Regions from separate parts of the Homo sapiens genome. Here regions 2 and 3 are each linked to region 1. The links come from fine-mapping of genetic effects on gene expression. A gene starts in region 1. Each other region holds a variant in brackets. All regions are shown on one strand. Distances are between the middles of the regions. Region 1 holds the start of GIMAP8 (GTPase, IMAP family member 8). Region 2 overlaps GIMAP8 (GTPase, IMAP family member 8). Region 3 has its middle 20 kb from the start of GIMAP6.

Region 1 (8,184 bases):
CAAAGTGCTGGGATTACAGGGGTGAGCCACCGCACCCGACCCTCACTTTTTATAGGTGAAAAAATATGGAGAATTTGGGGAAATCCCAGGAAGAAGAATGAGTAGTGAGGTGCTGGGAAAACCCTGGGATCATATGAAGTTGCTGTGGAATTTTACAGGAATTGCCCCTCCCTCTCTGTTTGGGTGATCCTTCTCTTTTGGTGGATTTTTTCATTTCAAAATCAGGTCTCTTGCCAGCTTTTAACTACCATTGACTCATAGTTTTTACCTTCACAAAGCTGTTTGCTACCACTATCAATCACTCAGAGTTTAAGAACTTTCTATTTCCACTCCTGATTATTGTCTGTGGGCCTCTTATGACTGCCTGTATCTCTCTAGAATCTTCCAGAAGCAACATGACTCTTTTAGGCCTTTGCTGCCAGCTAAGAAGGTGAAGAAAAGTCACCACTGCAATAAAAAGAGGGCACTTTGTCTTACTTGGCAATAAACCACCACCAGCAGCAGCAGCAATAGCAGCACCCCCACCCCCACCAAACCCAAAACAAACAAGAAAAGCAAAAGGAAACCTGTAAGCAAAGCCCAGGGGAGCTGTGTTGAATGTAGGTCCAGAGTGGGGTTGAGGGCTGCAGCTGGGCACAGGGTGCCTGCGCTCCAGCAAGAGTGCAGGCTGGAAGAAAGTCATTCTTTATCATCTCATTGGCCCTTGGATGGTGTCGAGAAGATTTAGAAATATTTTTATCCTCTTTATTTTTAGTCGTTTTCAGTGAGAGGATTGGCATGAAGAATCCTTGGGACACAGGAATCAATCAAGACCTTTGGATGCCCCTGCCTGCTCTGTCTCTAGAAGCCTCAAGCCCAGCATCCCCATGCCGACGTGCTCATCTCTAGCAAAACACCAGCCTCTCAGCCCTCTCTCCATAAAGGCCACTAGAAAGTACTGTGATGCCAGGCTGCTCCACATCCAGGCAGCCTGGGTGACCACTGCCCTTTATGAGAATCAGAAAAAGCTGTCTCCCGAGTAGTTGGAATTACAGGTGCATGCCACCATGCCTGGCTAATTTTTGTATTTTTAGTAGAGATGGAGTTTCACTATGTTGGCCAGGCTGCTCTTGAACTCCTGACCTCAAATGATCCACCCGACTCGGCCTCCCAAAGAGCTGGAATTACAGGAGAAGCTAAACGTTTTAAAATAAGTATATTATTTCTGAATTACTATAACAGACATGGACTCCATTTGAACAAGATACTTAATTCCATCAAAAACTTGTCAAAATATACAAATTTAGTCACAAGACACTTTACTACCATCTACCAAAGCTGTAGTAAACACACACATTTTCCATCTTTGAAATGAAATAACGTATAATAATGTTTTCCAAAATAACAAAGATGTCTGCAGTGAATAGCACTCCCTTTGATGTGGCAACTGGGTCAATCGTGTTAACAACTGTGAATTCATCTTTTTAAGAAATTCTTTTATTGTTTCTTTTCTTTTCCGCGACAGTCTCACTCGTGTTGCCCCGGCTGGAGTGCAGTGGCGCTATCTTGGCTCACTGCAGCCTCCGCCTCCCGGGTTCAAGCAATTCTCATGCCTCAGCCTCCTGAGTAGCTGGGATTATAGGCACGTGCCACCACACCCAGCTAATTTTTTTGTATTTTTAGTAGAGACGGGGTTTGACCATGTTGGTCAGGGTGGTCTCGAATTCCTGACCTCAGTTGAGCCGCCGGCCTCGGCCTCCCAGGAAGTGCTGGGATTACAGGCATGAGCCACCAGGCCCGGCCTTATTGTTTCTATTTGTAATAAATCTGTTCCCCTTGCTGCTGTCTCTGCGTTAGTTCTCCTCATTTCTAGCTTGGGTGCTGCAGCAGCCTCTGACCGGTCCTTCTGTCTCCAGCCTGACTGCGTTTTCTCGCACCTGCTGGGCTGTCTTAGGGCCCCGATGCCGGTGGCGTTTGCCATTCTCCGTCTGCCTGAGGCGTCCTCCCTCCGTCATCTGACAGGCAAATGTTACAGCCCTTCAAGACTTAGGCATTACCTTTCCCGCGCGGCCTTCCCTTCACTGTGCCTTACAATCTTCTCCATGGCAGGACATAGTGAAACTCCGTCTCTACCACTCCGTCAGTACCTGCCACAGGAAATGGCGGGTTTACGGATTTGTTTATAAGTTTATTTCCCCAATTGGTTGTTTTTCCATCTTGCGGGGTTTACATCGTCTCCTCCTCACTTGCGTGGCAGCCTGGACGCATCTCTATCACAGCACATTACCTCGTTTCGTGACCACAGCGTAGTCTCTTCCCCATCCTCAGACTGAGTTAGGGCCCCTTTGAGTCAGGTATTTGCCTTGCTAATCTTTGTGCCCTCTGTGTCTAATACGGTGCTTGGTCCTGGTAGATTTCTCCTTGCTTGCATAACATGTGTCTTCCTGGCTTATTCGATTTCTGGAAGTCTAGAACTTCTCCCCAGTGTTTCACCTGCCTGCTGAGTCAGGGCTCTCGGCCCGCTGGGGAGCATTTTGCTGCACTTGTCATTAGCCACAAAGCCACTAGGGGGCAGGGAGCCCCCATCCTGCCTCAGATCGGTGCCAAACCAGAACCCGGCAGCCTGCCTTCTGCACGGAAATCAATTCTCTAGGAGCTGATTTGCTGAAAGATCATTTTGCAAAATGGTCAACTCAGCAAATAATCGACTTGCTGAATCTTTGAGGAGTTATTTGCAGCTTCAGTTTTACTTAGAGCAATCCCTGGATGCTTAATATTTCATTTAAGAATGAGTGAGCCTTTTCTTCTCTATTTTGGGGAAACAGTTTCTTGCTGAGCCTCTGCCTCTGTTAGTACCCCAGCGGGGATGAACTGCAGTACCTGGCTTCGGGTTTTTGTCTTTTCATTATAATGAGTTGGTTTTATGTGCGTTGACCTACTGTAAAGGAAGGGTGGGGTTCTTCCAAAATAGATCCTCTTTCAATGAGGAGACAGGTAGAGTGGGACATGGGAAGGGCTTTGTCAGCTTTCCCCATCAAGATGTGTCCTGTGTGTCCCCAAAGCTCTTCTTGAGCCATCCCAGCATAACCAGGGTTTCCCTCAGGTTCATAACAAGGTAGAGCAGTCCTCAAGGCTGGCGCATGAAGACCAGTCCAGGGGGAGGGTGGATCCCTCGGGATGTGATAGGCTGACAGCAGCTCCCCAAAGCCTGTGGTTTTGACTACTGTAGAGACTTCATATCTGAAGCATGCCCCTCTACTTCAGCCACCCCCACTGCTCCTCCTTCTGCGGGGTCCCTTTGGAAAGCTTAGCACCACCTCAGACATTTGGAAAACTAACTTGAGCTCCAGTCCCTCGAGGCCCTAGCCTCTGCATCCTGTGAAGAGGGCCCTGCTGTGCAGAGCGCAGAGGGTCCCGCACTCACTTGGATGAACCTCTAGGGCATTCTGCTCAGTCTCAGGAGGGCAGACACTGTGGGACTCCACTCACATGAGTATCTGACGTTGCCAAAAATCATAGAAACAGGCCGGGTGTGGTGGCTCACACCTGTAATCCCAGCGCTTTGGGAGGCTGAGGCAGGTGGATCACTTGAGGTCAGGAGTTCAAGACCAGCCTGGCCAACATGGTGAAACCCCGTTTCTACTAAAAATACAAATATTAGCCGTGTGTGGTGGCGGGAACCTGTAATCCCAGCTACTCGGGAGGCTGGGGCAGGAGAATTGCTTGAACTCGGGAGGTGGAGGTTGCAGTGAGCCGAGATCACACCATTGCACTCCAGCCTGGGCGACAGAGCAAGACTCTGTCTCAAAAAAAAAAAAAAAATCATAGAAACGGAAAGTAGAACGGTGGTTACCCGGGCTGGGGTTCGGGGAGGTGAGTTGGGGTGTAATGGGGAGAGTTTGGGTGCTGCAGGATGAAAAGTCCTGCAGATCTGGCACACAACCATGTGAATGTACTTTCTACTGTGGGCTATACACTTAGAAATGGTTAGGATGGTACTATTAATGTTACATCATTTTTACCCTAGTAAACATTTTTTAAGAAGTCTTCCTCCGTGTTTGACTTCCTTATGAAGTAGAGACCAGGTAGTTTGGACACTATGTTCTTTCACAAAAGGGATTTCATTTTGTGAAATATTTGAAAGCATCGAAGTCTAGCATTTCACGTTTTGCAAGCTGGGGAAAAGCATTCATTCCCTGAGAAGCAGCGTTGGTCTGTCAGGCTTGGAGTTCCCCGGGTTGTGGGTTTTAGGGAAGGGAAGGGAAGCGAGGAAGGACTTGTGAGAGGAAGTCCTAAAGGCCACTTAAGGGCACACAGAGGCCCGGAGCTGGCTTTGCTCAGAGCTTGTAGCGGCGCCACAATCTCTGTCCTCTCAGGAACAGGAACTGGCTTGACGTCCTTTTCCTGCCCTATCCAAGCCCCTGTTCTTGCAGCCCTTCTGAAGCTCAGCCTGGCACCGGCCCCGGCGCCCCAGCCCCTGGCCAAGCCTCTGCTGTCATTTCTCCTCCCTCCTCTCAGTCTGCAGCTGCGGGACGGGCCGGGCTCCTCAGTTTCTGCTGTGTTGTGACCCCACGAGGCGCTCAGCACCCAGGGAAGGCGCGTGTGTCCCCGATGCTGGCTCCTCCCTGAGCCCCGACGGCTCTCGAGGTTCTGAGCCTGTGGCCTGCACAGGGAACTTCCTCTCCGACTGCATTTATGCCTCTGTGGATGTGAAGGCTATTTCTAGAAATCTCTTCCTTTGCAGAAACACCCGAAACCCTCCTGCCAGGAAGACCAGGGCCTGGGAAGAGGGTCGCTCTCCGGCCATTCTCCCCTCACCCTCCTCACCTTCCTCACATCCTGTGCCCTGGGGGACCAGCAGCTGCTTCCACCCAGGTGAGAGATGGAGGGATAGAGCCAGGTGGATTGCGGAGCCTCGGAGACTGTGGGACGCCGTGGGACCCCATGGGACACGACCGCAGTGCATGTGTGACATGTGCACTCGTGTGTAGATGTGTGTGCACTGGTGCATGGCTGTGGGGGAGGATGGGCTTGGCACCGGGAAGGCAGCCTGCTCAGCCATGGGAGAGGAGGCTGGGTTGAATGGCAGGGTTGAATGGCAGAGTTGAATGGCAGGGGCCCTGGGAAGCTTTCCTCCTGGTCCAAAGCGTGTCTCCCCAGCCTGCTGGGGAGTAGATTCGGCAGGATGGGGACAGAGGCATATTCCCAGACATCTATGAGAGTGGCTGTCCTAAAAGAAGGCGTGTCGGGGAGTGGGTGTGAGCCCTGAAGAGGAGGAGGGCTGAGACTGGCAGAAGGGAGGAAGAAGCAGGCGGAAGCAGCCGGTCAGATGCCCCATGAAGCTAGATGGTGCCGCAGAGCAGCCCCCAGGAGGAAGCCAGCGGAGCTCCTCCCGCAAAGCAGGGGGTGGGGGATGCTGATTTTTCCACGTCTGCTTTTCTGATCTTTCCTGCCCCTTGCACAGTTAGGATTCTGTGAACTGGGCATTGGAGGGATTGGAGGGGTCAAGACCTTACCAAAAGCAATATTTCTGATTTCACCTACATTTCAGCCAACCTGGTCCTCAGCAGTTAACCTCTTCCCTTCCTCTTGATGGTTGCCCTGCTGGGCTGGGTCTAAGGTCTTCCCCACGCTGGGCTCTGGAGGCATCTCCAACCACCCTGCTCTGTAAGTGGGAACTGCGATTAGATGTGGGATGAATCCCCGCATGGCTGGATGCTGTGCTCAGATGCCTGAGTCCACGTTTGCCTTGGGCTGTTTCCTGAGAAGGAGGCAGAGGCTGCCTTTACAGTCTTCAGTGAATTATAGGAAGAACGCTCTCTTTTTCTCTCAGTTGCTCTGCTGGGGTCTCCAGAGTGGCCTGGGAAATTGAGCAGAGGGAAATGTGGGCTGGCAGAGCGTGAGTGAGGGTGAGTTTGGGTACCTTTTTGTCCTTAAGTGCACTTTCTACATGTTGGGGTGAAGTGCTACTGGCTGGGAAGCTGTATGTGTGGTAGGAGTGTGCATGTGCGTGTGTGTATGTGGGTGTGTGTGTGTAGGTCCTGACATCATGTGGAGCTGCAGGCAGGAGTCCAGCCAAGACTCATTGGTTTGGTCATACTCTGCTGGGGAACCATGCAAGGCTGTGTCGCTTAATTGGGAAAGAAATTTCTTTCTTCTTCAGACCTGTGGGAGGCCTCTGCTTCCTTCAGCTTGCTGTTTTCTCACTAGTGTCTTTTTTTCTTAAATTAATTTACAGAGACATCTCACTTCACTTGCATATATATGTGTGTGTGTATGTATATATGTATATATATGTATATATGTATGTATATATGTATATATGTGTATATATGTATATATATGTGTGTATATGTGTGTGTGTGTGTGTGTGAGATATATATATATATATATATATATATATATATATACATGCGAGTGGAACTACAGGCACCCACCACCATGCCTGGCTAATTTTTGTACTTTTAATAAAGACGGGGATTTCATCATGTTGACCAGGCTGGTCTCAAACTCCTGATCTCGAGGGATCTACCTGCCTTGGCCTCTGAAAGTGTTGGGGTTACAGGCGTGAGCCACTGCGCCCGGCCTCCCTCTCAGTTCTAAAAACCGTTTTTCTTCTTTTCTTCACATTTCTGTCTCTCCTGTGATCGTTCATTCCTTTACCTCCACGTATTGGGCATATACTACATGCCAGGCACAATGTTAGGGCCTGGGGACACAGAACAAAACAGGCATGTTTGGAGTTTCAGCACATGCTGTTATGGAGCTTTGTACCAAGGGTAGTACAGAGAACATTTAGACATTTAAAAATAAAATTAATAAATAATTATAAAATATAAATAATATCAGATAGAATCAATGTTATGAAGAAAATTGAGGAGAGAGAGGAGATAGGGCATTAGTGTGAGAGCTTCTCTCCATAGGGTGTATCTGGGTGAAAGATGCTCTTAGAAGATCCCCGGTGCTGATTAGGTTTGAACCCACCGGAAATATTTTTCCCCTGGTGGACCGGTTCTGAGGTTCTGAGGTGTCTGAAGCTGCGGTGGGCTCTGCCCCGTGCCGTGCAGCCATCCAGATGATTCCAGAGAGAGGCCTCTGCCAAGGCCCTTGTGGGCTTTGCCTCGCCCTTTTCGAAAGTGGGCCCTGCCACTGCCTTTACTACCTCCCTGGGTCATTCCCTGCAGTGCAGCCTCTCCCCTGAGTGCCACAGACCCCATTTTTTGAAAAGGTATGAACCACCAAATTGCTGCACAGAAAAAGGGCTTTCCCACTCTTCACTTTCTTCGGCGTATCTGCTGCATTTTGCTTGTTCTTCAAGTCAATAACCATCAACTCAGAAACAAGTATTTATCAGATACTTTCTTTATGTTGTAGATACAGTGGTGAGAAAAACAGAGCAAGTCCTTATTCTCATGGAACTCACCTGTAGTGGTGGCAGACTAAAAAGCACTAAGCAACTAAATGCAGATGTGAAGGGTGACAGTAGTGGGTGTTGGGTACGGGGCGGGGGGCACAGAGGAGTCACGACTCTTAGGGTGGCAGTGGTGGGTGCTGGGTATGGGGCGGGGGTGCCCGTGGGGCATAGAGGGGTGGACAGCTCTTAGGGTGGCAGTGGCGGGTGCTAGGTATGGGGTGGGGGTGTCAGTGGGGCACAGAGGCATGGACAGCTCTTTAATAGCGGGTGGAGGCTGGAGAGGGCCTCCTGTACTAAGGGGACAGTGTGATAGAGACCTAAGGGAAGTGCTCAGGCACATGTCTTGCACATGTCTGCAAGGGACAATGCCCCAGTTCAGATGAACAGCAAGCATGTTTGAAGTACAGCGCAGGCTGATGTGACTATGGCACACAATGTGAGGGGAAGGGGGTGGGAGATGAGGTCAGAGAGCAGCTGGGCACAAGGTAGGGTCTCGTGACCACTATAAAGGCTTTGCCTTTTACTTTGAATGGGTGGAGAGTCACTGGGGGTGGGGGGAGGTTTAGAATGAAGCGTGACATTACCTGTCTCTTGTTTTAACAGGAGAGGAGAACTGTGGCTATTGGTGGACAATAGACAGCTGGAGAAGGGTGGAAACCGGGGAGCAGTGTTAATATTACTGCAAAAGTCCAAAGAGGAGCTGATGACCAGTTCAATCTGGAAAAGTTAGGAAAGGCTTGACATGGAGCCTCAGAGTCCTTGGGCTAAGTGATGGAGAATGGGTAGGAACG
Region 2 (8,184 bases), 24 kb after region 1:
AAAGAATGATGTAGTTCTGTCTATATTGACTTCTACAGATGTACAGAATGCATTATTAAGCAGATTGTAGAACAAATAATAAGTCTCCATATGTTCATGTATGCTTGTATGTATTTGTATGAACATAGAAAAAGATAGAAGTATATATACCAGTTAACAACTGTTACTTTTCTGGTGGAGTGGGAATGCAAAGATCATTAATTTTTATATTATGGACATTTACCTCATAACAATCTTTTGAATTTAGAGAACACTAAATAATTTGAACTGGGCTATGTAAGGTTAAAGAAATCTGATAATGACAGCTAAATGGAGAGGATGCAGGGAGAGGGATGGTTGAGGGTGTCAATGATATTGGGCAAAGCCAGGCAAGAAAGCAGAGGGAAGATTTCCTTGGCTGGCATGAAGATTTAACAAAGATAAGGTTAAAATGAAGTCTAGGAAGTTTCTAAGACTAGCAGGTTCATCAAGATTGCATACTGTTTTTTCACCTCCTTTCTTGATTCCACAACAATAAATATTTTGGAACTAAGTATCAGGATTCCCCAGGCAGGAGAAGGGGATGTCAGTTAGGTGTTTGGTTCTCTATCCTGTTGTCTCCATTTGCCAGACTTGGGGGGGTGGGGAACGGGATTCCAAATTATATTGGACAATTAACCTCAGGTTAGAATAAGCTTCCTTTCCATACTGGGAGCAGTGAGGGAAGGAGACGTTGGAAACATCACCTTCTCCGAGAACCAGTCCTAGCAGCATCAGGGGATCTAAGGATCCACTGCCATTGTGGACAGGTCCACAAAGACCAACAAAGACCATGACCAGGGCCTTGATTTGACCACATCTGACTCAGCAGATCATTCTGAATTAATACTTCAATTTCCTTTTTTTTTTTTTTTTTTTTTTCAGTTTGTGGAAGATGAGGTTTTAGATCTGTGTGCACTATTTTGTTCCTTTATTTTCTAGGATTGTGTGAATGAAGCTGCATCTCAAGAGGGAGACAAGCCACAGGGTAAGTTGATCTTTAAGAAACATTAAGCTCACACTTGTATTCTTTTGAATGCATTCTGCAGCCAAAGTGAAGCGGAAACATTATCCATATAAACCAGAAAATTCACCCTGGGGACCTAGCTGAGGTTGGTTCCCACAAGCTATCCCCTAGGAAACTCCTAACACTTGTGAGTAGGTATAGCACCAGCAAAGTTCCTGGACCCAGCGAGGGTGTCCTTGGACTTTTCTGAAGTGTTACAGAGCTGGGCTTGCCTCTTGTGTCTTCTTTCCTAACTCAGACTCTTCTTTCTGGCCTTGGATCCGGCCCTGCCCAAGTTTTGACTCCTCTTAGGAAAGCAGAAATCACTCCTTCATGGACAACACCAACTTGGAGAATTCTCTGATGGGGTGCAGTATTCAGGTGATGATTGCCAGTAATGATAGATCCTGCACATCTGCATAAGTCAATATGTATAGATCTACCTCCTTCCGTATAGTAGATGCAGTTTGTTTCACAATGTGGACACACAAAACAAATGCAACCATGCCTTTACTGATGGATTTGCAGGTTATTTCTGGGTCAGCCCTGTGCAAGCTCTGAGTATCCAGTCGTGAATAAGATAGACAAGATCCTTTTCCTCATGGAAATCTTCCAAATAATAAAATCATAATTTTAATAGTATTGCTAATAATTATAGCTGAGGCCGGGTGCAGTGGCTCATGCCTGTAATCCCAGCACTTTGGGAGGCCGAGGTGGGTGGATCACTTGATGCCAGGAGTTCAAGACCAGCTTGGCCAACATGGCAAAACCCTGTCTCTACTAAAAATACAAAAATTAGCCAGGCATGGTAGTGCGTGCCTGTCGTCTCAGCTACTCGGGAGGCTAAGACATGAGAATCACTTGAATCTGGGAGCGCAAGATTGCAGTGAGCTGAGATCATGCCACTTTACCCCAGTCTGGGCAACAGAGCAAGACCCTGTCTCAAAAAAAAAAAAAATTGCAGCTGACATTATGTCCTGGGAAATAACTTTCATAAATATGTAATTCAATCTTCATAGCATATTCATATATAATCCTCTTAAAATACACCAGTTCAATTCTTGTAACAATCTTGTAAAGAAGATGTTGTGAGCCTCATCCTCATTTCACAGCTGAGTGCACTCAGCCAGAAATACGTGTACTCAGGCAGAAGGGTTTCAAAATTCTGGCAATGCCCTTTGGCCGAGACCCCAGGAACACACGTGTGACTGAACAAAAGTGCGTTTATTGACCTGTGGCTGTGAGGGCCCAGCACACCATGGGGAGTCACAGGGCTGTCAGAAACAGGGGGCAGGGAAGGACTTTTTATAGGATGTGGGCTCATGTTAGGTGATTCTGAGGAAGGTTCCAGGAAGTGGGACTTTGCTCCAGGATGGATGCGCTTAGGAAGTGGGGGGTAGTTCCACAATGAAGTGTTTGAATAATTCTTCTGTCCAAGGTGACAAGGGTGGAACGAGGCTAAAGCCATCAGGAGGCAGCTGTCATCTATTTAGCCAGTGCAGGGGATGTTCGGGCAATGCTGTTGTTTTTGTGTGCTCAGATACGATTGCAGAGTGGTTGTGGTTGTGGAAGACTCGTGTCTGATTTTCTGTAATACTGTGGATGAGAGACAGGAGGGTGCCATGGCCTTGCTGTGGAGGCCAGACCAGCTCCTGGCTCTCAAGGGCTATTTATTATCCCTTCTCACTCCTACTTTTAACCACTGCACTGTATGGTCTCTCTAAATTGAAGAGAGTCCATATTCGAAATAAATATAAAATTATTATTTTGGTAAGAATAGAGGAAATACACATGGCAGCTGATTTGTATAGTTTTGCGGTGAGCAATTTAGGTGAAGTTCTCTTGAAGAAGTTATATTTGCATAGGAACCTGAGTAGCCAGCAGGAGATAGGGCAGGAGGCAAAGAAAGTGCTGTCATATGGGCAAAAGTCCTGAAGTCTGTAAAGGAGAGTAGGGGGGAGTGTGAGGGAGGGAGGGGCACTTCCAGGCCTGACTCAAGTTCTTCCTTAACTGTGAAGCCTTCCATGCACACTTCCGTGCTAGTCAGGTCCTAAGGGCTTTACAGGTGCTGTTTCCTTTAGTCTTTTCAACCTCAACGTGGGCATTAGATTCCCATTCTACCAACATGGAAACAGATTCGCAAAGCGGTAAGTTTTCCAAGGCAATACAGCAAGGGCCTTTGATGCTGTGTCCATCCCACCTTCCCAACTTGCTGCTCAGACCCTTCCCACGAAGGCTGTTGATGACTCAGCCTCAGAGAAAGCTCCCTGCAGTTGCAGACTCTCCCTTTTGCTCAGTTCATAGGTCTGGTGTTGATGCTGCCTCAGCCAGGGGATGTGTGGAGAGATAGTTGTAGGGTGCAGGTTTGCAGGTTTTTACAGCAATTTATTGAGGTACGATTTACACAGAGTAAAATGCACAAATCTTAAGCAAACAGCTTGATGCCTTTTTCTATATCTATACATATGGGATCCCCATCTAGATAAAGATATAGAGCATTTCCATCATCTTACAGATTCTTGCTGCCCCTCGCCAAAGAGAAACACTATCCAGATTTCTATCAACATAGATTAATTTGGTCTGTTCTTCAACTTCATATGGTAGAATCATCTAGTATGCAGTTTTTGTGTCCTGCTTCTTTTACTTAGCGTGTTTTTTTGAGATCCATCTATACTGCATATCGCTAGTTCACTTTTTTTTTAATTGCTGAGTGTATTTGATTTTATACCACCAAGGGGCATTTGAAAATCGGATTCTCCCTGCTCCTGCCTTAGCCCCTGGGCTTACCTTTGGTA[C/A]GTACTTACCTTTGGTAGGCCCCAGTACTTACCTTTGATAACAAAATGAGGGGAACCCTGAGGACCTAGACCAACGAAGGCCAAAGTTGGCATGTTCGTGTTCCTGGGGAATCATAAGCTCCATGAATATCTCTTAGTTCACTCCTGCCCCTGTTTGTGGCTTTCACCTTGATGGAGAGCTTCTGGCTGAGAGTAGAGTTCTACTGGTTTACCGTGTTGTTGCCATTCTCTATACAAGTTTGCAGGGATGAGAAATCATAAAACCTGCCCACATCCATATTCAACTGCAGGAAGAGACTCTGAACCTGTCCATTTGTCCCACAGGCCCAAGGGAAAGGCAGCTGCAGTCCACAGGACCCGAGCAGAATCCGGGGACATCAGAACTGACAGTCCTCCTTGTGGGGAAACGCGGTGCTGGAAAAAGTGCAGCAGGAAACAGCATTCTGGGGAGGCAGGCCTTTCAGACCGGATTTAGTGAGCAGTCAGTAACCCAGAGCTTCTTGTCTGAGAGCAGAAGCTGGAGAAAAAAGAAAGTTTCGATCATTGATGCTCCGGACATCTCATCTTTAAAGAACATTGACTCAGAAGTTAGAAAACACATCTGTACAGGCCCCCATGCCTTCCTGCTGGTGACACCACTGGGCTTTTACACTAAGAATGATGAGGCAGTGCTGAGCACCATCCAAAACAATTTTGGAGAAAAATTCTTTGAGTACATGATCATACTTCTTACCAGGAAAGAAGATTTAGGGGATCAGGATCTAGATACGTTCTTAAGAAACAGCAATAAAGCTCTCTATGGTCTCATCCAGAAGTGTAAAAACAGATATAGTGCCTTCAACTACCGGGCAACAGGAGAAGAAGAGCAAAGGCAGGCGGACGAGCTCCTGGAAAAAATTGAGAGCATGGTGCATCAGAATGGGAACAAGCATTGTGTTTTCAGAGAAAAAGGTAAAACTGTGAATAGGATATATATTTTTACATATATCATTTAAAAATAGGTATAAAATATATAAGAACTTTTTATTTTCTTTTTTTTCTTTTTTTTTATTATACTTTAAGTTTTAGGGTACATGTGCACATTGTGCAGGTTAGTTACATATGTATACATGTGCCATGCTGGTGCGCTGCACCCACTAACTCGTCATCTAGCATTAGGTATATCTCCCAATGCTATCCCTCCCCACTCCCCCCACCCCACAACAGTCCCCAGAGTGTGATATTCCCCTTCCTGTGTCCATGTGATCTTATTGTTCAATTCCCACCTATGAGTGAGAATATGCGGTGTTTGGTTTTTTGTTCTTGCGATAGTTTACTGAGAATGATGATTTCCAATTTCATCCATGTCCCTTCAAAGGACATGAACTCATCATTTTTTATGGCTGCATAGTATTCCATGGTGTATATGTGCCACATTTTCTAAAAGGCATAGAGAAGATAAAAAGGACAGGTCTCCTGTTCCTGTGTTAGTCTGCTTAGGATGGCAGCCTCCAGCTCTATCTATGTTACTGCAAAAGACAGGATTTCATTCTTTTTTATGGCTGCCTATTATTCTATGGTGTATATGTACCTGTACCTAAAATAAAAGTTGAAATGAAACAAAAAAGAAGTTGAAACTGGAAGAAAAATAAAGGAAGGATAGGTCTGTTCTATGGACTAACTCTTTTCTCTTTCTTTGCTTCTCAAATTGTACTGAAGTTATAGCTTTTCCATGCACATTCTCTTGAACCGGTCTTTAATTTTTTCATGATCTTTACTATCTCTTCAACTGGATAGTGTGAGTGTCTTGAAGAAAGGAGCTGATGCTTTCCAACCCTTTGTTTCCCCACAGTGTACTGTTGCCCAGAGCTTGGCACACTGCTCTCTTTACTACTTAAGAAGGGCTCCTCATCCACTTAGTGCTACACGTTCAGTTGACCTATGCTGAGGTCCTTCCCATTCTTACTCATCCCGTTTTTTTTTCTGCTTCAAACATCCTCACCCAGGAAGAAGATAAAACCCAAAGGAGCATATTTTCTTATTGAACCCTCCTTTAGAAGTATAGATACATGGGAAAGTCAGGAGAGGCTTTGTGTAGAAAGCCCAATTTGAAACAGGTTTTAGAGAATGGGTAGGGATTAAATGGCTGAGCAGAAAGCTGGAAGATATTCCAGAGAGTACACCAGCAATTTGAAGCAAAGAGGTAGGACTAAGCATGTCACTTGTTAGGGGACAAAAAAGAATAATCTTGGTGGAGATGGGGGTTCACAGCTCTAAAGGACATCTTCCAAGAACATTGAAGATTAAGGCGTTGAACATTAAGAACACTGAATTAGAGAATATGGGATGGGGAGTGGGGCCGGATTTCAGAGGTACATGAGAAACACACCCTCTGTAGGTACAGAAGTAGGGACTGAAATATATGACAAATATGGGAGTGTTGGAAGATTAAGCTATTGTTCATCTGCTGGGCATAACTATGAAGTTGAAGTTTCAGCATAAACAGGTTAATAATTTCCCCTTGAAGGAAGAGCATGGGATGTGCTTTCTTCCTCCTTTGCATTGAAGTAGATATTAGCTATTTGATATGAAATTCATAATGGAAGAGAACTACGAAGAGACTTGAATGAGCACTGGACTGTCACAGTGCAAGTGCAAAAGCATAAGAACGATCTCCAAAGAACGCATATTGTAAGGTCTCTATGTGTCTGTAAATTCCATTTATAGGGAAATTCATTCTCTTTCTCCATCATGGACACCACACACCCAACAGTGTTAGTGGATATTCATTATTATAACCATGCGGTTTCTTCTGACTCATCAGTGAAAGGCAATTAAGTTCAATGTGGTTTTAATGAGAAATGAATTTTTACATGTCCTAACTAAGGAAACTGGTAATCTATCAGTGATATGTAGAGTTTCTTTTTCATGAAAGTCAATTTTACAGAATAATTCTTTAAATACTGTAAGGAGATGTTGCTATAGTTAGCAGTAGTTGGGAGTGAGAAGATGTAGTTGTAACAGGAACAGAAGACAAAGGGATGAGATGTGTAGACGGAACCCAGCTGAGGGGAGCAGAGAGTAAGAAGGCCAGGGGACACTCACAGGTGCCAGGGAGTCTGTCTGGAAGGTGCTGCAAAAAGGGAGCAGAGCCGATTCAGTGATAGGAACAGTGCCACATTGGTGGATGAACCCTGGACGGAGACTGTATGTAGTCCAAGTCCTGCCATGAGTCCACAGACTGAGTGAACTGGGCCAAGTCATTCCCGTGTTTGGAGATCCCCCTGCTTGGGTGAGAAGGAGGTCTTGATGCTGTTTGAACATGCTGTTTACTTTAGTGATGTAATCTTGCTTCATGGGATAACTTTAAAATCCAATTTCAGATCAGCCCATGGTCACGAATCTTTCCCACTTTCCTTTGACAGAAACCCTGAACATTGTCCTTGTGGGGAGAAGCGGGACTGGGAAGAGTGCGACCGGGAACTCTATCCTGGGGAGCCTCGTCTTCACCTCTCGGCTCCGGGCCCAGCCAGTCACCAAGACCAGCCAGAGTGGCAGGAGGACATGGGACGGACAGGAGGTGGTGGTTGTGGACACTCCTTCCTTCAACCAGATGCTGGATGTCGAAAAGGACCCATCCCGGTTAGAAGAGGAGGTCAAGCGCTGTTTGTCCTGCTGTGAAAAAGGGGACACATTTTTTGTCCTGGTGTTCCAGCTGGGACGATTCACTGAAGAGGACAAAACAGCTGTGGCGAAACTGGAGGCCATCTTTGGAGCAGACTTTACGAAATACGCGATTATGCTGTTCACCCGGAAGGAAGACCTAGGGGCGGGGAATTTGGAAGACTTCATGAAGAACTCAGATAACAAAGCCCTTCGGCGCATTTTTAAAAAGTGTGGGCGGCGAGTTTGTGCTTTTAACAACAAAGAAACAGGCCAGGCCCAGGAAACCCAGGTGAAAGCTCTTTTAACAAAGGTCAATGATCTGAGAAAAGAAAGTGGGTGGTCCGGGTATCCCCATACACAGGAGAACGTCAGCAAACTAATTAAAAATGTCCAGGAAATGTCCCAAGCCGAAAAACTCCTTAAAAATTTAATAGGTATTTTACAATAGGTAGCCGAAGTGCCTGGGGTCTCTTCAATTAGAGACACCCTCAGGTTGGGGGGAGGGGCGGGGCATGGTACAACCTGTGGGAAGGGAAGCGGGTTCATGGCTTTGAGGGCCTGAGAGGCAAATGCATCCCGCCTTGTGATGTATCAGCTATTTGTAGATAAATAAATTGCAGGTGGGGGCGAATAGTAGGGTATTATAAAGGAGAAAGAAGATACAAGGTGGGGAAATCTGGAAAAAGATTTCAGACATTAGGCTGATAATAAGTGGTAGAA
Region 3 (8,184 bases), 160 kb after region 1:
CTTCAACACCCCACTGTCAACACTAGACAGATCAATGAGACAGAAAGTTAACAAGGATATCCAGGAATTGAACTCAGTTCTGCACCAAGTGGACCTAATAGACATCTACAGAACTCTCCATCCCAAATCAACAGAATATACATTCTTTTCAGCACCACACCACACCTATTCCAAAATTGACCACATAGTTGGAAGTAAAGCCCTCCTCAGCAAATGTAAAAGAACAGAAATTATAACAAACTGTCTCTCAGACCACAGTACAATCAAACTAGAACTCAGGATTAAGAATCTCACTCAAAACTGCTCAAATACATGGAAACTGAACAACCTGCTCCTGAATGACTACTGGGTAAATAACGAAATGAGGGCAGAAATAAAGTTGTTCTTTGAAACCAATGAGAACAAAGACACAATATACCAGAATCTCTGGGACACATTCAAAGCACTGTGTAGAGGGAAATTTATAGCACTAAATGCCCACAAGAGAAAGCAGGAAAGATCTAAAATTGACACCTTAACACCACAATTAAAAGAACTAGAGAAGCAAGAGCAAACACATTCAAAAGCTAGCAGAAGGCAAGAAATAACTAAGATCAGGGCAGAAATGAAGGAAATAGAGACACAAAAAACCTTTCAGCAAAATCAAGGAATCCAGGAGCTGGTTTTTTGAAAAGATCAAGAAAATTGATAGACCGCTAGCAAGACTAATAAAGAAGAAAAGAGAGAAGAATCAAATAGATGCAATAAAAAATGATAAAGGGGATATCACCACCGATCCCACAGAAATACAAACTACCATCAGAGAATACTATAAACACCTCTACGCAAATAAACTAGAAAATCTAGAAGAAATGGATAAATTCCTCGACACATACACCCTCCCAAGACTAAACCAGGAAGAAGTTGAATCTCTCAATAGACCAATAACAGGCTCTGAAATTGAGGCAATAATTAATAATTTACCAACCAAAAAAAGTCCAGGACCGGATGGATTCACAGCGGAATTCTACCAGAGGTAAAAGAAGGAGCTGGTACCATTCCTTCTGAAACTATTCCAATCAATAGAAAAAGAGGGAATCCTCCCTAACTCATTTTATGAGGCCAGCATCATCCTGATACCAAAGCCTGGCAGAGACACAACAAAAAAAGGGAATTTTAGGCCAATATCCTTGATGAACATTGATGCAAAAATCCTCAATAAAATACTGGCAAACCGAATCCAGCAGCACATCAAAAAGCTTATCCACCATGATCAATTGGGCTTCATCCCTGGGATGCAAGGCTGGTTCAGCATATGAAAATCTATAAACATAATCCAGCATATAAACAGAACCAAAGACAAAAACCACATGATTATCTCAATAGATGCAGAAAAGGCCTTTGACAAAATTCAACAATGCTTCATCCTAAAAACTCTCAATAAATTAGGTATTGATAGGATGTATCTCAAAATAATAAGAGCTATCTATGACAAACCCACAGCCAACATCATACTGAGTGGGCAAACTGGAAGCATTCCCTTTGAAAACTGGCACAAGACAGGGATGCCCTCTCTCACCACTCCTATTCAACATAATGTTGGAAGTTCTGGCCAGGGCAATCAGGCAGGAGAAGAAAATAAAGGGTATTCAATTAGGAAAAGAGGAAGTCAAATTGTCCCTGTTTGCAGATGACATGATTGTATATCTAGAAAACCCCATCGTCTCAGCCCAAAATCTCCTTAAGCTGATAGGCAACTTCAGCAAAGTCTCAGGATACAAAATCAAAATCAGCTACTAAATGGGTGAGAAGCATTTAGTGAGTGCTTAACGCACTCCAGGACGTTGGAATCCAATGATGAACAAGGAAGTGTTCTTCATCAGCCACAACTGTAGGAGACAGACAGCAAGTAGTTAAAATACAAGATCTAAACTACTTTGTCCTGGGTATACCTGGCACCAATTAGGTATCTTTTTTGAGAAGGAAATGTTTCCACAAAGAGGTCAGATAGATTATTTAAAATGGTAAACTGAGGCACAATCAGATATATAGTGTTTATTTGAGTAACAAGCAATTCATGAATTGGGAAACACAAAACCAAAAGAGGGTTAGTGTTTCAATGACAAAGAATCAGAGGCAAAGATTTGTAGGATGAATGTGGATGCAAAATAAATACAGTATTTGATTGTTTGCAGCTATAATATCATCTTTTTTGGTTTATGTTGTTGGAAATCCCTAAACTCATGAACATATATTAGTCAGCTGCTTATGATTGGCTGAGACTAAGTTTCATTTCTGTTCAACATAAGCATTTACCAGAAATGACCCAAGTTAAAATTTTGCTTCTGTTTGCAGTTTAAGCAATGTTAAGGCTATTTTTAATTTTCCATTGGTTTTGTTTGCTCAGCAATGTTTAGGCCCGGTCTCCATTTTAATTGTGCTTTAAGAATTTTCCCTTTTTAGTTATTTCTTCAGCAAGCTGACAGTGTGACCAAATGGCATAGCATTACTCTCAGTTACCAATGTTGATGTAGTCCTTGGAAAGAAAAGTCAGGAAGATGTTGTTGTCATCATTAATCGTTATGCTGGGGTTCAGAGTTACAAAGCTACTGTGAACAATTACTTGGTCCATATTCGTTTCCTTGAGTTGGCTGATCCTAAGGGCAATCTTTTGACATGTGAGTGGCCACTGGAAAGAATAAAAACCCTTGATAGAATGTAATGCACCAGGAGGTAAACACAATAACTATAAGGAGAATAATAGCCAAGAATTGAAAAATTCCTCTGAGCAAAGATTCCCAGGAGTCAAATTTAATCCACTAAAGAAATCAATGCCCATTCAGTATGATATTGGCTGTGGGTTTGTCATAGATAGCTCTTATTATTTTGAGATATGTCCCATCAATACTTAATTTATTGAGAGTTTTTAGCAAGAAGGGTTTTTGAATTTTATCAAAGGCCTTTTCTGCATCTATTGAGGTAATCATGTGGTTTAGGTCGTTGGTTCTGTTTATATGCTGGATTACATTTTATGATTTGTGTATGTTGAACCAGCCTTGCATCCCAGGGATGAAGCCCACTTGATCATGGTGGATAAGCTTTTTGATGTGCTGCTGGATTCGGTTTGCCAGTATTTTATTGAGGATTTTTGCATCGATGTTCATCAGGGATATTGGATAATCCTGCTGCTATAAAGACATCATGCTGCTATAAAGACACATGCACACATATGTTTATTGTGGCACTATTCACAATAGCAAAGACTTTGGAACCAACTCAAATGTCCAACAATGATAGACTGATTAAGAAAATGTGGCACATATACTCCATGGAATACTATGCAGCCATAAAAAATGATGAGTTCATGCCCTTTGTAGGGACATGGATGAAACTGGAAACCATCATTCTCAGCAAACTATCACAAGGACAAAAAACCAAACACCGCATGTTCTCACTCATAGATGGGAATTGAACAATGAGAACACATGGACACAGGAAGGGGAACATCACACACTGGGGCCTGTTGTGGGGTGGGGGGAGAGGGGAGGGATAGCATTAGGAGATATACCTAATGCTAAATGACGAGTTAATGGGTGCAGCACACCAACGTGACACATGTATACATATGTAACAAACCTGCACGTTGTGCACATGTACCCTAAAACTTAAAGTATAATAAAAAACATTAATGGAGAAGGTGGGACTTGTCTGATGAAAGATTTATATTTGTTTCTTAAGATCCTTTAAATTGGAGGCAATAATTTCTAATTTGTTAACATAGAAACATCTTTATCACTATAAGCAGAATCTTCTTTCACAGTTTTTTATTTGTACAAATTTATAGGGAACATGTGAATTTTTGTTACATGTACATAATGCACAGTGAAGGGTATTTAGGGTGTCCATCACACAAATACAGTATATTTTTGTTTAACTATAGTCACCCTACTCTGCCATCAAACACTGAACTTATTACTTCTATCTAATTTTATGTTTGTCCCCTTTAACACAATTCTCTTCATCCACCCTCTACTTTCT[C/G]AGTCTCTGCTATCTTTTCACTCTTTTCTACTTCCATGTGATCGAATCTTTCAACTCCCACATATGATATTTCAACTCCCACATATGATATTTTAACTCCCACATGTGATATTGTTCTTCTTGTGCTTGGCTTATTTCACTTAAGATAAAGACCTCCAGGGAGATCTGACAAGATGGCCGAATAGGAACAGCTCTGGTCTGCAGCTCCCAGCAAGACCAATGCAGAAGACCAGTGATTTCTGCATTTCCAACTGAGGTATCCTATTCATCTAGGAAGTGGGAGCAGCTCATGTGTTGGGGTGATTGGACCCAACACCAGGTCATGGGGGTGACGAAGTCTGGCAGAGTCAAAGGAATGAGAAAAGACGTTTGAGAGAGAAAGTGGGCCCAGGGGTCCAACGTGAGTATGGAGGCTGCGAAGGTCCCAAGCTCTGGAAGCCCAGACTATTTATTGGTGATCAAACAAAGAAACAGGTGGTGAGAATGTGGGGTTGAAAGGGAGTATTGCATTAAGCACATGATTTACAGCTGTGATGGTTTAGCATATGCTCTGCTACTTGAGATAATGGAGAGAAGGTTCTTCTAACTCAAGATACAATCGATCCTGGGAGAGCAAGAAGCAAGGAGCCAGCATCTAGACACATTCCAGAGGCCATGAGGGGTTTTATGCCCTGAGCCCTGGATTCTATCCAAGCCATGAGGGGTTTTATCCCCTGGGCTTAGATTATGGTGCATCAGGGTAGCCTTCCACCCTTTAGCACAGAGCTTGGTGTTCCAAAGGCCAAGAGAGGTTTCAGACCCCGGACCCTGGACAGGTTCCAAGACTTTTTTACATTATGTCAGACATGCAAGCCCTGCCTCAGTTTTTCCCAACACTCAGCTTTTCCCAACATACCCCCCTTTTCTTTTTCATAAAACCACCACAGCTATCATTGCTTGTTCTTGATGGCAGCTTTCTCTTCAGAGGCGGTTTCCTCTTCAGAGGCAGCTTCTGCATCTGCAGACTAAAAGGAGACAGCACAAGCACACAACAACCAGAAAGAAACCCACAATGTAGAGCCTCCAATGGCCTTCAACTATAAATCTTTTGGAACGGGATAAGAGTTTTTTAAGGATCTCAGTTACAATATAAATACTTGGTGATGTTTCCCATAGTCTATTTAGAGACAGAGGGATCAAACTCCTTCCCTGGCTTTAATTATCAAGATAGTTATATTTTCATCAAAGGTTGAATTAATGCAGGTAAACAAGCAACAATCAGGGCATGTAATAAAGTGTGTATTATATCAAGAGTAACATTTCCTATTGCTAGCACGACTTTGAATCCAAAAGGTCCTGCTGGAGAGAAAAGAAAGAGCATTTTCATCCTTACCTCCTTCCCCTCTATTCCTTTTATATTTGCCCTCTCAGATTTTGATTGGACTTTGAGCCATAGCTAATTTCCATAATTCAGAATGTTCTTGTCTGTCCCTGCAAATCTCTGCTTGTCTTTGCTAGTCTCTACCTTTGTACCTCTTTAGGGCACTGACCAGTACCTCTTTAAGGCACTAACCTTATATTGCTAGTCTTTGCTTTTGTACCTCACTGACCAGTACCTCTTTAGGGCACTGACCAATACCTCTTTAGGGTACTGACCTTATATTGCTGGTCTTCATCTATCCGTATCTGTCCCTGTCTGTCCCTATGGTACCTGTTATTTCCTGTGAGTTCCTGCAAGTCCCTGTATTTTCCTACCTATCTCTACTTATCTCTATCTCTACTTACTTATCTCTATCTCTATTTACCTCTATCTCTATCTCTAGTTATGTCTATCTCTGTCTCTATTTATCTCTATCTCTATTTATGTATATCTCTATTTATGTCTATCTCTACTTACTTATCTCTACATCTTCCTGGAAACCTTTTTTATGACCCACATCAGCATCATCCTCAATTTCCTGGAACGAATTGTTGATCATGGCAATTAACATATTTAGCAAAACAATGACCATTGTAACATTACAGACTCCATAAAGAACATAACCAATGTTTTCAATGAATTTGTGGTTATAGTTGATGATCACTGATTTCACTTCAGAAAGTCCAAATATAGCCCAGAACATTGTCTTAAAACTCTCTTCAACGTTGTGAAGGCTTCATTTTGTTTTGCACCAATGTAGTAGGAGTAGAGGTTGAACATTCCAATCATAAAGGCCACAAACACCATAATGAATATGACCATGAACCTGAAGATGTCTTTGACTGCTCCTCCAAGTGACGTCTGCAGAGGTCCAAAGCTTTCATTTGCTGGCAAAATACAAGCTATCCCAGAGAAACTCAAAACCACAGCAACTGCACAAAGACCTTCAGACACCACCCAAGGATCAGAGGGGACCCACTCCCTCCTGGCCAAATTGTAGTATTTCACATTATCTCCCAGTGTTACTTCTGTCAAGTCCTTCAAAGTATCATTTGCATCAATGATGCTTTGGGCTTTGGAAGCATGCCAGAACGCCCTGAATCTTGCAATGAACAATGCTGTGAAAATCACTAACATACCAAAATCAAGCATATTCCACAACTCAAACAAATATTCCTTGGGGCCTTGAGTCCAAATTTCTTTACATTCAGTCCCATATCATGCCTCTGTGCTCATTAAATCTGTTTTTCTCCAGCAGAAGCAGGTTAACTGTGAAACTGAAGCTTCAAGATGACTTTACTTTCCCAGGCTCCTTCTAAGTCCTCACTTTGTCTTCTTTTTCTCTAAATGGGGCCTTCTGAATAAACAAGCCTCAGATTCCACTGGGTCTTACCCCATGTCTCACCCTCTTCATAATAAGTGCCTTAAGAAATTCAAGTAAGCAGAATGTTTGCTTTCACTTTGTCCCATTGTTACCCTGTTTCTTCCAAGTGCTCAGCTTTCCTGACGAGCTTCTTTCAGTGGTCCTCAGGTGTCCTTTGACGATGCATCCTCCACTTTCACATGCTCTAGCATTCCTTCACTGGGGTATTTGTCACCCCAAGTTGGGCAGCCAGGAATGTTGGGGTGATTGGACCCAACACCAGGTGGTGGGGGTGACAAAATCTGGTGGAGTCAAAGGAATGAGTAAAGACAGTTTGAGAGAGAAAGTGGGCCCAGGGCGCCAATGTGAGTAATGGAGGCTGTGAAGGCCCTGAGCTCTGGAAGCCCAGACTATTTATTGGTGATCAAACAAAGAAACAGGTGGTGAGAATGTGGGGTTGAAAGGGAACATTGCATTAAGCACATGATTTACAGCTATGACAGTTTAGCATATGCTCTGCTACTTGAGATAATGGAGAGAAGGTTCTTTTAACTCAAGATACAATCGATCCTGGCAGAGCAAGGAGCAAGGAGCCAGCAAGTCTAGACACATTCCAGAGGCCATGAGGGGTTTTATGTCCTGCGCTTACATTATGGTGCATCAGGGTAGGCTTCCACCCTTTAGCACAGAGCTTGGTGTTCCAAAGGCCAAGAGAGGTTTTAGACCCCGGACCCTGGACAGGTTCCAAGACTCTTTTACATTGTGTCAGACATGTAAGCCCTGCCTCAGCTTCTCCCAACACTCAGCTTTTCCCAACACCATGGAGGGTGAGCGTCACCTCACCTAGGACGTCCAAGCAGCCAGGGGCCTCCCTCCCACAGCCAAGGGAAGTTGTGAGGGACTGTGCTATTTGGCCCAGATAGAACTACACATTTCCCATGGTTTTTGCAATCCACAGACCAGGAGATTCCCTCGTGTGCCTACACCACCAGGGCCCTGGGTTTCCAGCACAAAACTGGGTGACTATTTGGGCAGACACAGAGCTAGCTGCAGGAGTGTTTTTTCACACCCCAGTGGCACCTGGAACCCCAGTGAGACAGAATGGTTCACTCCCCTTTAGAGAGGGCTGAAGCCAGGGAGCCAAGTGGTCTCGCTCAGCAGGTCCCAATCCCTTGGAGAACAGCAGGCTAAAAGCCACTGGCTTGAAATTCTCACTGCCAGCCCAGCAATCTGAAGTTGACCTGGGATGATGGAACTTGCTGGGGGGAGGGGCGTCCGCCATTACTGAGGCTTGAGTAGGCAGTTTTCCTCTGACAGTGAAAATACAGTCATGTATCCCTTAACAGGGATACCTTCTGAGAAATGCATTATTAAGTGGTTTCATTGTTGTGTGAAATCATAAAGC

What was found. PIP is the estimated chance that this variant, and not a neighbour inherited with it, causes the effect.
Region 2: its variant is fine-mapped to the expression of GIMAP8 in unexposed skin (GTEx, PIP 0.98).
Region 3: its variant is fine-mapped to the expression of GIMAP8 in whole blood (TOPMed, PIP above 0.99). The same link has a PIP of 0.9 or more in monocytes.

The regions. Positions count from the first base shown.
Region 1 is chr7:150,446,322-150,454,505 of GRCh38, forward strand. It overlaps GIMAP8 (GTPase, IMAP family member 8), which reads left to right and starts at 4,309. Exons shown (of 5, transcript NM_175571.4): 1 at 4,309-4,854. It overlaps LINC00996 (long intergenic non-protein coding RNA 996), which reads left to right. Exons shown (of 4, transcript NR_034033.1): 3 at 379-568; 4 at 755-1,819.
Region 2 is chr7:150,469,869-150,478,052 of GRCh38, forward strand. GIMAP8 (GTPase, IMAP family member 8) reads left to right here. Exons shown (of 5, transcript NM_175571.4): 3 at 961-1,006; 4 at 4,144-4,770; 5 at 7,224-8,184. The coding sequence ends at 7,912. Among named protein-coding and RNA genes, the nearest start is that of GIMAP8, 23 kb to the left of the region's middle. RefSeq lists an enhancer at 7,027-8,184. The variant C/A (reference allele first, on the strand shown) is at 3,820.
Region 3 is chr7:150,608,140-150,616,323 of GRCh38, forward strand. It overlaps the pseudogene TRPC6P3. Among named protein-coding and RNA genes, the nearest start is that of GIMAP6, 20 kb to the right of the region's middle. The variant C/G (reference allele first, on the strand shown) is at 4,018.